Linked DNA regions of Homo sapiens. The protein of the gene in region 2 interacts with the protein of the main gene of each other region in a pairwise test. Each region holds a gene or a part of one and is shown on either strand. Other genes may lie near its edges.

Evidence for each region.
Region 1: the proteins of CATIP (region 2) and CEP72 interact in binary tests that used the Homo sapiens proteins (3 or more experiments, as listed by UniProt).

The regions. Positions count from the first base shown.
Region 1 is NC_000005.10:629,117-636,381, forward strand, and holds part of CEP72 (centrosomal protein of 72 kDa), read left to right. Parts: intron 1-4,652; coding exon 4,653-4,831; intron 4,832-6,255; coding exon 6,256-6,468; intron 6,469-7,265. UniProt on the Homo sapiens protein: Involved in the recruitment of key centrosomal proteins to the centrosome.
Region 2 is NC_000002.12:218,359,778-218,367,042, forward strand, and holds part of CATIP (ciliogenesis-associated TTC17-interacting protein), read left to right. Parts: intron 1-795; coding exon 796-882; intron 883-2,957; coding exon 2,958-3,125; intron 3,126-4,850; coding exon 4,851-4,975; intron 4,976-6,887; exon of another isoform or gene 6,888-7,021; intron 7,022-7,149; exon of another isoform or gene 7,150-7,246; coding exon 7,247-7,265. UniProt on the Homo sapiens protein: Plays a role in primary ciliogenesis by modulating actin polymerization.

The DNA.
Region 1 (7,265 bases), on a different chromosome or scaffold from region 2:
TGTTTTGTGTAGATATCTCTTAACTGCCTTTGTTGGAAACAAGGTCCCCTTTGAGCACATTCTTCTCTGTATAGAGGGTCACCATGCTAAGGTGGGTCATATTCTGACACACCTCTGATTTCAGCCATTATGAAAACATTCTCCCTGAATGTGAAAGTGAACATTTGGAACACTTAACTTTCTTGATCACGTGTATCTCCTTGTGGATGTGCTAGGAAAAGTGTAATCACATAGCAGAACAGAATCTTCCAGAACTTTAATTTTTGAACCAATCCTAGTGGGGTTCTGTCCAGTGCCGGGATTTGGACCAGTCCTGGTGGGATTCTGTCCAGTGCCGGGATTTGACCCAGTCCTGGTGGGGTTCTGTCCAGTGCCGGGATTTGGACCAGTCCTGGTGGGGTTCTGTCCAGTGCCGGGATTTGGACCAGTCCTGGTGGGGTTCTGTCCAGTGCCGGGATTTGGCCCAGTCCTGGTGGGGTTCTGTCCAGTGCCGGGATTTGGCCCAGTCCTGGTGGGGTTCTGTCCAGTGCCGGGATTTGACCCAGTCCTGGTGGGGTTCTGTCCAGTGCCGGGATTTGGCCCAGTCCTGGTGGGGTTCTGTCCAGTGCCGGGATTTGACTCAGTCCTGGTGGGGTTCTGTCCAGTGCCGGGATTTGGCCCAGTCCTGGTGGGGTTCTGTCCAGTGCCGGGATTTGGCCCAGTCCTGGTGGGGTTCTGTCCAGCGCCGGGATTTGGCCCAGTCCTGGTGGGGTTCTGTCCAGCGCCGGGATTTGGCCCAGTCCTGGTGGGGTTCTGTCCAGTGTCGGGATTTGACCCAGTCCTGGTGGGGTGCTGTCCAGTGCCGGGATTTAGACCAGTCCTGGTGGGGTTCTGTCCAGTGCTGGGATTTGACCCAGTCCTGGTGGGGTTCTGTCCAGTGTCGGGATTTGACCCAGTCCTGGTGGGGTGCTGTCCAGTGCCGGGATTTAGACCAGTCCTGGTGGGGTTCTGTCCAGTGCTGGGATTTGACCCAGTCCTGGTGGGGTTCTGTCCAGTGCCGGGATTTGGCCCAGTCCTGGTGGGGTTCTGTCCAGCGCCGGGATTTGGCCCAGTCCTGGTGGGGTTCTGTCCAGCGCCGGGATTTGGCCCAGTCCTGGTGGGGTTCTGTCCAGCGCCGGGATTTGGCCCAGTCCTGGTGGGGTTCTGTCCAGTGCCGGGATTTGACCCAGTCCTGGTGGGGTTCTGTCCAGTGCCGGGATTTGGCCCAGTCCTGGTGGGGTTCTGTCCAGTGCCGGGATTTGACCCAAGTCCTGGTGGGGTTCTGTCCAGTGCCGGGATTTGACCCAGTCCTGGTGGGGTTCTGTCCAGTGCCGGGATTTGGCCCAGTCCTGGTGGGGTTCTGTCCAGTGCCGGGATTTGACCCAGTCCTGGTGGGGTTCTGTCCAGTGCCGGGATTTGGCCCAGTCCTGGTGGGGTTCTGTCCAGCGCCGGGATTTGGCCCAGTCCTGGTGGGGTTCTGTCCAGCGCCGGGATTTGGCCCAGTCCTGGTGGGGTTCTGTCCAGTGCCGGGATTTGACCCAGTCCTGGTGGGGTTCTGTCCAGTGCCGGGATTTGGCCCAGTCCTGGTGGGGTTCTGTCCAGTGCCGGGATTTAGACCAGTCCTGGTGGGGTTCTGTCCAGTGCCGGGATTTGACCCAGTCCTGGTGGGGTTCTATCCAGTGCCGGGATTTGGCCCAGTCCTGGTGGGGTTCTGTCCAGTGCCGGGATTTGACCCAGTCCTGGTGGGGTTCTGTCCAGTGCCGGGATTTAGACCAGTCCTGGTGGGGTTCTGTCCAGTGCCGGGATTTGGCCCAGTCCTGGTGGGGTTCTGTCCAGTGCCGGGATTTGACCCAGTCCTGGTGGGGTTCTGTCCAGTGCTGGATTTGACCCAGTCCTGGTGGGGTTCTGTCCAGCGCCGGGATTTGGCCCAGTCCTGGTGGGGTTCTGTCCAGCGCCGGGATTTGGCCCAGTCCTGGTGGGGTTCTGTCCAGCGCCGGGATTTGGCCCAGTCCTGGTGGGGTTCTGTCCAGTGCCGGGATTTGACCCAGTCCTGGTGGGGTTCTGTCCAGTGCCGGGATTTGGCCCAGTCCTGGTGGGGTTCTGTCCAGTGCCGGGATTTAGACCAGTCCTGGTGGGGTTCTGTCCAGTGCCGGGATTTGACCCAGTCCTGGTGGGGTTCTGTCCAGTGCCGGGATTTGGCCCAGTCCTGGTGGGGTTCTATCCAGTGCCGGGATTTGACCCAGTCCTGGTGGGGTTCTGTCCAGCGCCGGGATTTGGCCCAGTCCTGGTGGGGTTCTGTCCAGCGCCGGGATTTGGACCAGTCCTGGTGGGGTTCTGTCCAGCGCCGGGATTTGGACCAGTCCTGGTGGGGTTCTGTCCAGCGCCGGGATTTGGACCAGTCCTGGTGGGGTTCTGTCCAGTGCCGGGATTTGGACCAGTTCTGGTGGGGTTCTGTCCAGTGCCGGGATTTGGACCAGTCCTGGTGGGGTTCTGTCCAGTGCCGGGATTTGGCCCAGTCCTGGTGGGGTTCTGTCCAGTGCCGGGATTTAGACCAGTCCTGGTGGGGTTCTGTCCAGTGCTGGATTTGACCCAGTCCTGGTGGGGTGCTGTCCAGTGCCGGGATTTAGACCAGTCCTGGTGGGGTTCTGTCCAGTGCCGGGATTTGGCCCAGTCCTGGTGGGGTTCTGTCCAGTGCCGGGATTTAGACCAGTCCTGGTGGGGTTCTGTCCAGTGCTGGATTTGACCCAGTCCTGGTGGGGTTCTGTCCAGTGCCGGGATTTGGCCCAGTCCTGGTGGGGTTCTGTCCAGCGCCGGGATTTGGCCCAGTCCTGGTGGGGTTCTGTCCAGCGCCGGGATTTGGCCCAGTCCTGGTGGGGTTCTGTCCAGTGCTGGGATTTGACCCAGTCCTAGTGGGGTTCTGTCCAGTGCCGGGATTTGGCCCAGTCCTGGTGGGGTTCTGTCCAGTGCCGGGATTTAGACCAGTCCTGGTGGGGTTCTGTCCAGCGCCGGGATTTGGCCCAGTCCTGGTGGGGTTCTGTCCAGCGCCGGGATTTGGACCAGTCCTGGTGGGGTTCTGTCCAGTGTCGGGATTTGACCCAGTCCTGGTGGGGTGCTGTCCAGTGCCGGGATTTAGACCAGTCCTGGTGGGGTTCTGTCCAGTGCTGGGATTTGACCCAGTCCTGGTGGGGTTCTGTCCAGTGTCGGGATTTGACCCAGTCCTGGTGGGGTGCTGTCCAGTGCCGGGATTTAGACCAGTCCTGGTGGGGTTCTGTCCAGTGCTGGGATTTGACCCAGTCCTGGTGGGGTTCTGTCCAGTGCCGGGATTTGGCCCAGTCCTGGTGGGGTTCTGTCCAGCGCCGGGATTTGGCCCAGTCCTGGTGGGGTTCTGTCCAGCGCCGGGATTTGGCCCAGTCCTGGTGGGGTTCTGTCCAGTGCCGGGATTTGACCCAGTCCTGGTGGGGTTCTGTCCAGTGCCGGGATTTGGCCCAGTCCTGGTGGGGTTCTGTCCAGTGCCGGGATTTAGACCAGTCCTGGTGGGGTTCTGTCCAGTGCCGGGATTTGACCCAGTCCTGGTGGGGTTCTATCCAGTGCCGGGATTTGGCCCAGTCCTGGTGGGGTTCTATCCAGTGCCGGGATTTGACCCAGTCCTGGTGGGGTTCTGTCCAGCGCCGGGATTTGGCCCAGTCCTGGTGGGGTTCTGTCCAGCGCCGGGATTTGGACCAGTCCTGGTGGGGTTCTGTCCAGTGCCGGGATTTGGACCAGTTCTGGTGGGGTTCTGTCCAGTGCCGGGATTTGGACCAGTTCTGGTGGGGTTCTGTCCAGTGCCGGGATTTAGACCAGTCCTGGTGGGGTTCTGTCCAGTGCCGGGATTTGGCCCAGTCCTGGTGGGGTTCTGTCCAGTGCCGGGATTTAGACCAGTCCTGGTGGGGTTCTGTCCAGTGCCGGGATTTGACCCAGTCCTGGTGGGGTGCTGTCCAGTGCCGGGATTTAGACCAGTCCTGGTGGGGTTCTGTCCAGTGCCGGGATTTGGCCCAGTCCTGGTGGGGTTCTGTCCAGTGCCGGGATTTAGACCAGTCCTGGTGGGGTTCTGTCCAGTGCTGGATTTGACCCAGTCCTGGTGGGGTGCTGTCCAGTTCCGGGATTTAGACCAGTCCTGGTGGGGTTCTGTTCAGTGCCGGGATTTGGCCCAGTCCTGGTGGGGTTCTGTCCAGTGCCAGGATTTAGTCCCGTCCTGGTGGGGTTCTGTCCAGTGCTGGATTTGACCCAGTCCTGGTGGGGTGCTGTCCAGTGCCGGGATTTAGACCAGTCCTGGTGGGGTTCTGTTCAGTGCCGGGGTTTGGCCCAGTCCTGGTGGGGTTCTGTCCAGTGCTGGGATTTGGCCCAGTCCTGGTGGGGTTCTGTCCAGTGCCGGGATGCTGTCATGTTATCACGTAACCTGGCTGTTGCTCACCGATTGTCCTTGGTGAGTCACTCTTTAGCATCACTGCAGTGGAAGCAACAGGACCCGGCTGCCCCACGTTTGCAGCACGCTGCTTCTCTCAGAGACCGTGCAGGAATTTTCCTTCTCCTGGTCTGCGTGGGCCGGAGCATATGGCTGGCTTGAGTGATGCTGATGAGTTTGCTTTTCCTTACAGACCACACCACCCCAGAGCCAAGTGCACCGAGGCCTTGGCCAAGCAGAGCCTGGTCATGGATGCGGATGACGAGGCAGTCCTGAACCTCATTGCAGAGTGCGAGTGGGACCTCGGCAGGCCTCCCGGGAGCACGAGCTTCAGCCAGAAGGGGCGTGAGGCCGACTCTCGTGGTTCCCAAGGTGCGCTGCTCATCTGCCAGGAGGCCAGTGGGTCCGCTGGCTCTGGGATATATATAGTCGTTACTGGGCTTGGAGTCCACAGTTGCTCTTTTTGTGGAACTTACCTTGAAGGATAGGATCTTCATGATGTGTCTTTGTGTGCTTTCGAATGCCAGCCATTTGGACTACAGAGTTATAAATGAGAAAGTTAACATATTTGAGTATAGTCATACTGCATGATGGTTTAAATTGTATCCTTCTGAGATCACAGGAAAAGGCAAACTGTCTAAAACAGACAAGAAGCCTAGTGTCCTGTGGCAAGTGGGGCTGACATCTGCGGCAGCTGCAGGGGGGCATAGTCACCGAACTTGCAGGAAACCCTGAGCTCAGGCCGCCACGTGCAGACCTGTAGATCCCAGCAAGGGTGTCTCGGAGACTCCGTTGCCCGGTGGCACTGCCCTCCACTGGGATGTGCTGATGGGCTTTAGCTTCATTTATTCCACCTCCGCTGTGAGTTTCTGAGAACTTTTCGTGGAAACAACAGGTGGAGACCTGAGTTTGGGCTGAAATCTTAGGTTCATCTGTGCAAAGATGTCTGCCCTGTGGCAGCGGTGCTCGAGCCATGTCCTTGCCGGCACTGGGAGCTGAGTCCTTTAATCCTAGCTGCTCTGTCAGGGGGTTGTGGTCTGTGTTTATGGCTTTAATTTGCATCCGCTGCTGTTGAGATACTGGCCGTGCCTGTCTCTTCTTTTCTCTCCAGGTCTGCCCACCTTTGTTCTGGGGTTGCTTCTCTTAGTATTGAGTCCTAAGAGATCTTGGTGGTTTTGACACAGGCCCTTTCTCAGGCACAAGGGCTGCCCATTTCCTCCCTTCTGTGGCTGGCCTTTTCATTATCTGAACAGTGCTTTGAAGAGCACAAGTTTTAATTTCATTACAGTCCAGTTTATGAAGGGCACAGTTTATTTTGTTTTTTGTTTTGTTTATTTTGAGATGGAGTTTTGCTCTGCCGCCCAGGCTGGAGTGCAGTGGCGCAATCTTGGCTTGCTGCAGCCTTTGCCTCCCGGGTTCAAGTGATTCTCCTGCCTCAGCCTCCCAAGTAGCTGGGACTACAGGCGCCCACCACCACACCCAGCTAATTTTGTATTGAGACTGTCTGGACTCTCTCTTCTGTTTTGTGCATCATTTTGTCTGACTTTGCTCCACTTCATGCGGCTGGATTCTTGCAGCCTTGTCCTGAGTCTCGCAGGCGAGTGGCGCCAGTTCCCAGTTCCAAGCTCTCTTGCTGTTAGAAGTCACTGTGGATTCATTTCAGTGTCACCCAGCACGTGATTAACCCCTCGGTCTAACAGATACCATACACTATTCAGAAGCTTAAAATGTAATTTTTGATGGAATAAAACTTTTACAATGTTTTATGAAATATTTTATTTACAATATTTTAATAGAATCCAGACATCTGTTGAGCCCGCAGTTGGTACAGTACCAGTGTGGGGACTCTGGGAAGCAGGGCCGTGAGACGAGGAGGAGCAGCTGCAGAGGGTGCTGTCTGGAGAAGATGCCTTGGAGCCAGCTCTGTGGAGAGCTTCCGCCACTGTACGGAGCGGAGCCAGAGGCCTCCCGTGCCCCCAGGCCACACACGTACTTCACCCCACACCCAGGTACTTACGCGTGTCTTAGTCTGTTTTCTGTTGCTGTAACAGAAAACCACAGACTGAGTAATTTATAAAGAACAGAAGCTTATGTGGCTCATGGTTCTGGAGGCTGGGAAGTCCAAGAGCACGGTGCCGGCACCTGGTGCTGGTCCTCCCATGGCACAGGCAGAAGCATGGTGCAGGCAGAAGCAAGCTCAAGACAGAGAAATGGAGCTAGACTCATCCTTTATCGGGAACCCAGCCCTGCGCTACAGCATTCCTGCCTCCCTGCGGGCTGGCCCTGTGACCTGTTCCAGACTCATCCTTTATCAGGAACCCAGCCCTGCGATACAGCATTCCCGCCTCCCTGAGGGTTGGCCCTGTGACCTGTTCCAGACTCATCCTTTATCAGGAACCCAGCCCTGTGCTACAGCATTCCTGCCTCCCTGAGGGCTGGCCCTGTGACCTGTTCACCTCTTAAAGGCCCTCCGCTTAATACTGTTAGAGTGGCAATAAGTTTCCAGCTTAGGAACTTTGGGGGGTTCCTTCGAACTACAGCAACATGAAATCCCTGTCAACTTTTACTCCCTTCAGTTCCTTTTTAAGTAGTTAAATATTTTTCACATCGTTTGCTTTTACTATGAAATTTCTCCTGTTCTCTGTGTATTTATTTGTTTGTGGAACTCTCCAAAATGTCTTTGGAAAGAATGCAGCACATTGAAATTTATAATCCATTCATGGTTTAGATTCATGGTTGGTAAATAAGTGCTTTTTCTCTGCACGTGTGTGTGTGCACACCCTCCCTCACCCTCTCACTAATGCAC
Region 2 (7,265 bases):
AAGGTGTTTTTTGGTTTTTGTTGCTGCTGCTTTTTTTTTTTTATTTTATTATTATTATTATTTTTGAGACAGAGTCTTGCTCTTATCACCCAGGCTGGAATGCAGTGGTGCAATCTAGCTCACTGCAACCTTCACCTTCCGGGTTCAAGCAATTCTCCTGTCTCAGCCTCCCAAGTAGCTGGGAATTACAGACATGCACCACCACACCTGGTTAATTTTTGTATCTTTAATAGAGATGGGGTTTTGCCATGTTGGCCAGGCTGGTCTTGAACTCCTGACCTCAAGTGATCTGCCCGCCTGGGCCTCCCAAAGTGCTGGGATTACAGGCATGAGCCACAACACCTGGCCCTGCTGCTTGGTTTTTTGTTTGTTTGTTTGTTTGTTTTTGAGATGGAGTCTCAAAAACAGCCTGTTGCCCAGGCTGGAGTGTAGTGGTGCGATCTCGGCTCACTGCAACCTCCGCCTCCGGGTTCAAGCAATTCTTCTGCCTCAGCCTCCCAAGTAGCTGAGACTACAGGCATGTGCCACCACACCCAGCTAATTTTTGTATTTTTAGTAGAGACGGGGTTTCACCGTGTTAGCCAGGGTGGTCTCAATCTCCTGACCTCGTGATCCGCCCACCTCGGCCTCCCACAGTGCTAGGATTACAGGCGTGAGCCACTGTGCCCGGCCCGGCTGCTTTTTTTTTAAGTCACAATCTTTAAACCTCAGTTTTCTCATTAATGGAGAAGGGTCAGGTGACCTCTGGGGGACCCAGGGAGTCCCTGATCCTCCCCCGCATGCTCTGGCCCTCAGTTCCTCATCCTCCCCATGGAACGGAAGATGAGTTTGCTGAAGCAGGATGATCAGCTGGCTGTGACCAGAAGTATCAAGGAGGGTGAGGTAAGGATGAGAGCCAGATGGGAGTTGCACTACACACTGTGAACCCAGAATATCTGAGACAGGTCCAGATCAATTTAGAGAGTTTATTTTGCCAAGGTTAAGGACGCGCACATGACACAGCCTCAGGAGGTCCTGAGGAAATGGGCCCAAAGTGGTTGGGGCACAGCTTGTTTTTTTTTTTTTTTTTTGAGACAGAGTTTCACATTTGTTGCAGAGGCTGGAGTGCAATGACGTGATCTCGGCTCACTGCAACCGCCACCTCCCGGGTTCAAGTGATTCTCCTGCCTCAGCCTCCCGAGTAGCTGGGATTATGGGCATGCACCACCACGCCCGGCTAATTCTGTATTTTTAGTAGAGAGGGAGTTTCATCCCTGTTGGCCAGGCTGGTCTCAAACTCCCGACCTCAGGTGATCCGCCCGCCTCAGCCTCCCAAAGTGCTGGGATTACAGGCGTGAGCCACCACGCCCAGCCTACAGCTTGGTTTTATACATTTTAAGGAGACACGAAACATCAATCAACACGTGTAAGATGTACACTGGTTCACCAGACGTAAAAATACAAAAAATTAGCCAGGCGTGGTGGCAGGCGCCTGTAGTCCCAGCTACTCGGGAGGGTGAGGCAGGAGAACGGCGTGAACCCGGGAAGTGGAGCTTGCACTAAGCTGAGATCACGCCACTGCACTCCAGCCTGGGCGACAGAGCAAGACTCCGTCTCAAAAAAAAAAAAAGATGTACATTGGTTCATTGGAAAAGGCAGGACAACTCGAGGCAGGGAGGGGGCTTCCAAGTCATAGGTAGATAAGAGACATGCTTTTAAGTTTCCGATTAGCCTTTCACTGAATACACAATTTACATGCTATGGGGGTTAGAAAAGTAGTCACTTATGCCTTACTCTGGCTTAGTGAAACAATAGAGCAGAGAAAGCCATCAGATATGCATTTATCTCACGTGAGCAGAGGGATGACTTTGAGTTCTGTCTGTCCTTTGTCCACAAGGAATTTCCTTGTGGGCAAATAGTGAGGGAGTTATATAGCTTTTTTTTCTCTTAGTAGCTACCTTGTTTAGGAATAAAATGGGAGGCAGCTTTGCCTGAGGCAGTTCCCAGCTTGACTTCCCTTTGGCTTAGTGATTTGGGGTCCCAAGATTTATTTTTCTTTCACAATGTCCTCTTCAGAACTCTGAGCGGGGACCAGATTAGATGAAGCCAGGAGTCCAGACTAACGATTCATTCATTAGGCTGGGCGCGGTGGCTCACGCCTGTAATCCCAGCTCTCAGAAGCAAGAGGCAGGAGGATAGCTTGAGCCTAGGAGTTCGAGACTTGCCTGGGCAATATAGCGAGACCCCGTTCTCCAGAAAAAGGAAAAAAAAAAAAGACAAGGATTCATTCATTAAAAACCATATGACCGGCTGAAGGCCAGGCGTGTGGTGACTCACGCCTGTAATTTCAGCACTTTGGGAGGCCAAGGCGGGCGGATCACTTGAGGTCAGGAGTGGAGACCAGCCTGGCCAATATGGTGAAATCCCCTCTAATAAAAATACAAAAATTAGCTGGGCGTAGTGTCGTGAGCCTGTAATCCCAGCTACTCAGGAGGCTGAGGCAGGAAAGTCGCTTGAACCTGGGAGCTGGAGGTTGCAGTGAGCTGAGATCGCACCACTGCACTCCAGTCTGGGCAACAGAGCAAGACCCTGTCTCAAAAAAAAAAAAAAAAAAGGCTCACGCCTGTAATCCCAACACTTTGGGAGGCAGAGGGGGCCTATCACCTCAGGTCAGGAGTTCAAGACTAGCCTGGCCAACATGGTGAAATCCGGTCTCTACTAAAATTACAAAATTTAGCCAGGCATGGTAGCCTGTAATCCCTGCTACTTGAAAGGCTGAGGCAGGAGATCGCTTGAACCAAGGAGGCGGAGGTTGCAGTGAGCTGAGACCACGCCATTGCACTCCAGCCTGGGTGACAAAAAGCGAAACTCTGTCTCAAAAAAAAACAAAACCGTATGCCCAACACCTGGCTTGCCCACCCTCCTGTCCCCTGCCCCTTCCTGGTTCCAGGACCCTGACCCAGATCAGTTCTGAACAGGAAGTGAAGACTGGAGTGACTTCTTTCCCCTGGAGCTCAATCAAGGGCTTCATCTCAGAGGCTGCCAACCTGGTGCTGCTCAGGGTGATGGCCTGGCGGCGGATGGTGCCCAGCAATGCCCGCTTCCTGACCTTGGACACCGAGGGCAAACTCTGCTATTTGACCTATGTAAGGGGTCCCCTTGGGCAGGGGACTTGGCTTGGGAGCGAACTAGAAAAGGCGTGAAAAGCACTGAGATGGGGAACAGCTGTGGAGTAGAAAAGGGAGGCAGGTGGGGAGAAAACAGCACAGGTGGGAATGGGGCTTTCAAGGGCAGGAAAGCATGTTTGTCTGGGAGTGTGGGGCAGATGAATTGAGAGTGACTGAGAAGTGGGAACAGTTCAGAGAAGCAACCCTTCCGCACAGAAGTCAGTCCAGGAAAAATAAATATAGTGCAGGGCTGATTTAAAAAATACATCATTTTGGGCCAGGTGTGGTGGCTCACGCCTGTAATCCCAGCACTTTGGGAGGCCAAGGCGGGCCGATCACAAGGTCAGGAGATCTAGACCATCCTGGCTAACATGGTGAAACCCCGCCTCTACTAAAAATACAAAAAAAAAAAATCAGCGGGGCGTGGTGGCAGGCGCCTGTAGTCCCAGCTACTCAGGACGCTGAGGCAGGAGAATGGCGTGAACCCGGGAGGCAGAGCTTGCAGTGAGCCGAGATCGCGCCACTGCACTCCCGCCTGGGTGACAGAGCGAGACTCTGTCTCAAAAAAAAAAAACAAAAAAAAAAAAACGTCATTTTGGCCAGGCGCAGTGATTCATGCCTGTAATCCCAGCACTTTGGGAGGCCAAGGTGGGCAGATCACTTGAAGTTAGGAGGTCAAGATCAGCCTGGCCAACATGGTGAAACCCTGTCTCTACTACAAATACAAAAATTATTAGCTGCGTGTGGTGGCAAGTGCCTGTAATCCCAGCTACTCGGGAGGCTGAGGCAGGAGAAGCATCACTTGAACCCAGGAGGCGGAGGTTGCAGTGAGCTGAGATCGCACAACTGCACTCCAGCCTGGGCAACAGAGGGAGACTCTGTCTCAAAAAAATAAATAAATAAAAATAAATCATTTTTTAACTTTAGGAAGTGTAACATGTCCAACTTTACTGAAATATTCCTTTATTATTTCTTAACCCCAAAGGGTGTTCCGTTTTTGTTTTGTTTTTTGTTTTTAACTAAAATTTCATAATCAGCATGCCTAGGACTTCCTGCAATCAGTGATTTTAAAGCCATGCCACTGAACACACAATTTCCAGTGAGACACTTTGGGGGCTGATTTGTGTTTCTTTGACCATCTTTGTAAATTACATTCCAGGCTTGTCTATCAAAACACACCAAGCAGCAATGCATTTGACATGAACAAGCACAATCCATTCCCCTCCGTGTTCTTTGAAACATGTGTTTAACATTAGCACTTTTTTCTCCATAGCTGCAGCTACAACAGGGGTTTAAGTTTTAATCACAACAGGGACAGCCTGCCAGCAACAGCACAGGTCTGAGGTGGCCACAAATCTGTCTGGTCTCACACCTCTGAGCCTCACTTTACCTCCACCCACTGGCCCTAGTAGCTCATCCTACCTCTCCGCTCCCACACCCCCCCGCATACCGCTTCTCATCCCTGTAACAGAATTTGCCAACTAGAAGCACCTGGTCAGCGAGATGACATGGGAGGGGTCAGGGCAAGGGCAACCTGGAGCTAGCTCCCTATGAGGGGTCGCCAACTCAGCTTGGAGGTTTGGAGATGCAATATTAAATGTCTTGAGGTTGTTATGAGATGGAGAAAAGGCTAAGGTAAGATGATGGGGAGCCCTTGGCGGGCATCCACCTTACCTCCCACCCCCCAATTTTGGCTGTTGCCAGCAAAACCTGGGCTTCCAGACCATCCAGGTAGACCATCAGCAGGCTGAAGTCTTCATCGTGGAGCAGACTGTCCACGCGGAGGAGGGCATCCCCATGTCCTGCCAGTACTACCTGCTCTCCGATGGGTGAGCTGCTGATGGTGGGCCCAGAGGGGTGGTGCTGAGCTTGTAGGTGCTCAAGGAGACCGGCTGCTTCTGGGGATAGCACCAGGAAGAACTGGCATTGAGATAGGAGTGTCCCTCCGCTTTATCCATATCATTCACTCTTTCTTCATTTATTTGCTCGTCCTCTTAACCCTCACAGTGCCTCCCAAACCTTCTCACTGCACACCACAGGCCTGGGGTGTAGCTAGTGCAGCCACCACTGTGTAAGGGATAATACTGAAAAACACCAAGGTCTGAATGACTGCACACTTGATGAAATCACTGTGCTGGAAGAATTGCCTGTGGCAGGCTGCCGTGCAGTCTCCAGCAAAGCACTGGCTCCAAATCATAAGAAAATTCAGGGCTGGGCGTGGTGGCTCACACCTGTAATCCCAGCACTTTGGGAGGCTGAGGCGGGCGGATCATGAGGTCAGGAAATTGAGACCATCCTGGCTGACACGGTGAAACCCCATCTCTACTAAAAATACAAAAAATTAGCCAAGTGTGGTCGTGGGCGCCTGTAGTCCCAGCTACTCTGGAGGCTGAGGCAGGAGGATGGCGTGAACCCAGGAGGCAGAGCTTGCAGTGAGCCGAGATCGCGCCACTGCACTCCAGCCTGGGTGACAGCAAGACTCCGTCTCAAAAAAAAAAAAGAAAGAAAAAGAAAATTCAGGTGGAAGAAAGAGTTTCTTTCTGTTTTTTTGTTTTGTTTTGTTTTTTTGAGACAGACTCCAGTCGAGTTTATTTCTTAAAATTTCAGAATAGATATTCACATAATCACTACACTGGGGAAAAGGTAATCAAAACATTGTTGGCTTTATCTCATAACTTAGTATGTTTTCGGTTTTGGTGCGATCATAGCCCACTGCAGCCTCCAACTCCTGGGCTCAAGCAATCCACCTGCTTCAGCCTTCCTAGTAGCTGGGACTACAGGTATGCACCACAGCTCCAGGCCAACCTTTTTATTTTGAATGCCGCATAGCAGGAGATTCCATAATTTTTCTTTTCTTTCTTTCTCCTTCCTTCCTTCCTCTTTCTCTCTTTCTCTCTCTCTGTCTCTTTCTTGACAGAGTCTCGCTCTGTCACCTAGACTGGAATGTGTGGCATAATCTTGGCTAACTGCAACCTCCGCCTCCCAGGTTCAAGTGATTCCCTTGCTTCAGCCTCCCAAGTAGCCGGGACTACAGGTGCCTGCCACCACGCCTGGCTAATTTTTGTATTTTTAGTAGAAACAGGCTTTCACCATGTTGGCCAGGCTGGTCTCAAACACCTGACCTGAAGTGATCTGCCCATCTTGGCCTCCTAAAGTGCTGGGATAACAGGCGTGAGCCACTACAAGTGTGAGCCACTGCGACAGGCCTCTTTCTCTTTTTGAGACAGTCTCGCTCTGTTACCCAGACTGGAGTACAGGGATGCAATCTTGGCTCACTACAACCTCCACCTCCCAGGTTCAAGTGATTCTCATGCCACAGCCACCAAAATAGCTGGGATTACAGGCGCCCACCACCACGTCTGGCTAGTTTTTTGTATTTTTAGTAGAGACGGCGTTTCACTATGTTGGCCAGGCTGGTCTCAAACTCCTGACCTCAAGTGATCCACCCATCTCAGCCTCCCAAAGTGCTAGGATTACAGGCGTGAGCCACCGTGCCTGGCCAAGAGGCTCCATGATTTTCGAGTGCTGTACCTCTAAAGATCCTTTTTGTTTTTTTTAAACAGGGGGCCTAATACTTGCCAAGCCCTGTGCGTTATTTGGAGATCCAGAAATGAACACCACCCAGGAACTTAATAAACAAGAGAGGGAGGCAGAAGTAAAGAGGCCCGGGACAGGTCTCTCAAGGGGCACTGTCATGTAGGAGTCTGCTTAGGCTGCCATAACAAAACACCACAGGCTGGGTGGCTTCAAGAGAAATATATTTGCTGGAAGGCAGGAAGTCCAAGATCATGGTGCCATCAGGGTTGGTTTCTGGTGAGGGCTGTCTTCCTAGCTTGCAGACAAGTGCCTTCTCAATGTGTCCTCACATGGCCTTTCTTCCGTGCATGAGTGAAGAGAAAGCTCTCTGGCATCACCCTTTTCTCATAAGGGCACTAATCCTATCTGATTCGGGCCCCACCCTTATGACTGCATGTAAACGTAATGACCTCCCCAAAGCCCCTACCTCCAAATACCACCACACTGGGGGTTAGAGAGACAATTCAGTCCATAGCAGGCGGTCTGGGAAGATTCTCACTCTCACATGTTGTGTTGCACTCCAGGCACCTGGCCAAGAGAATA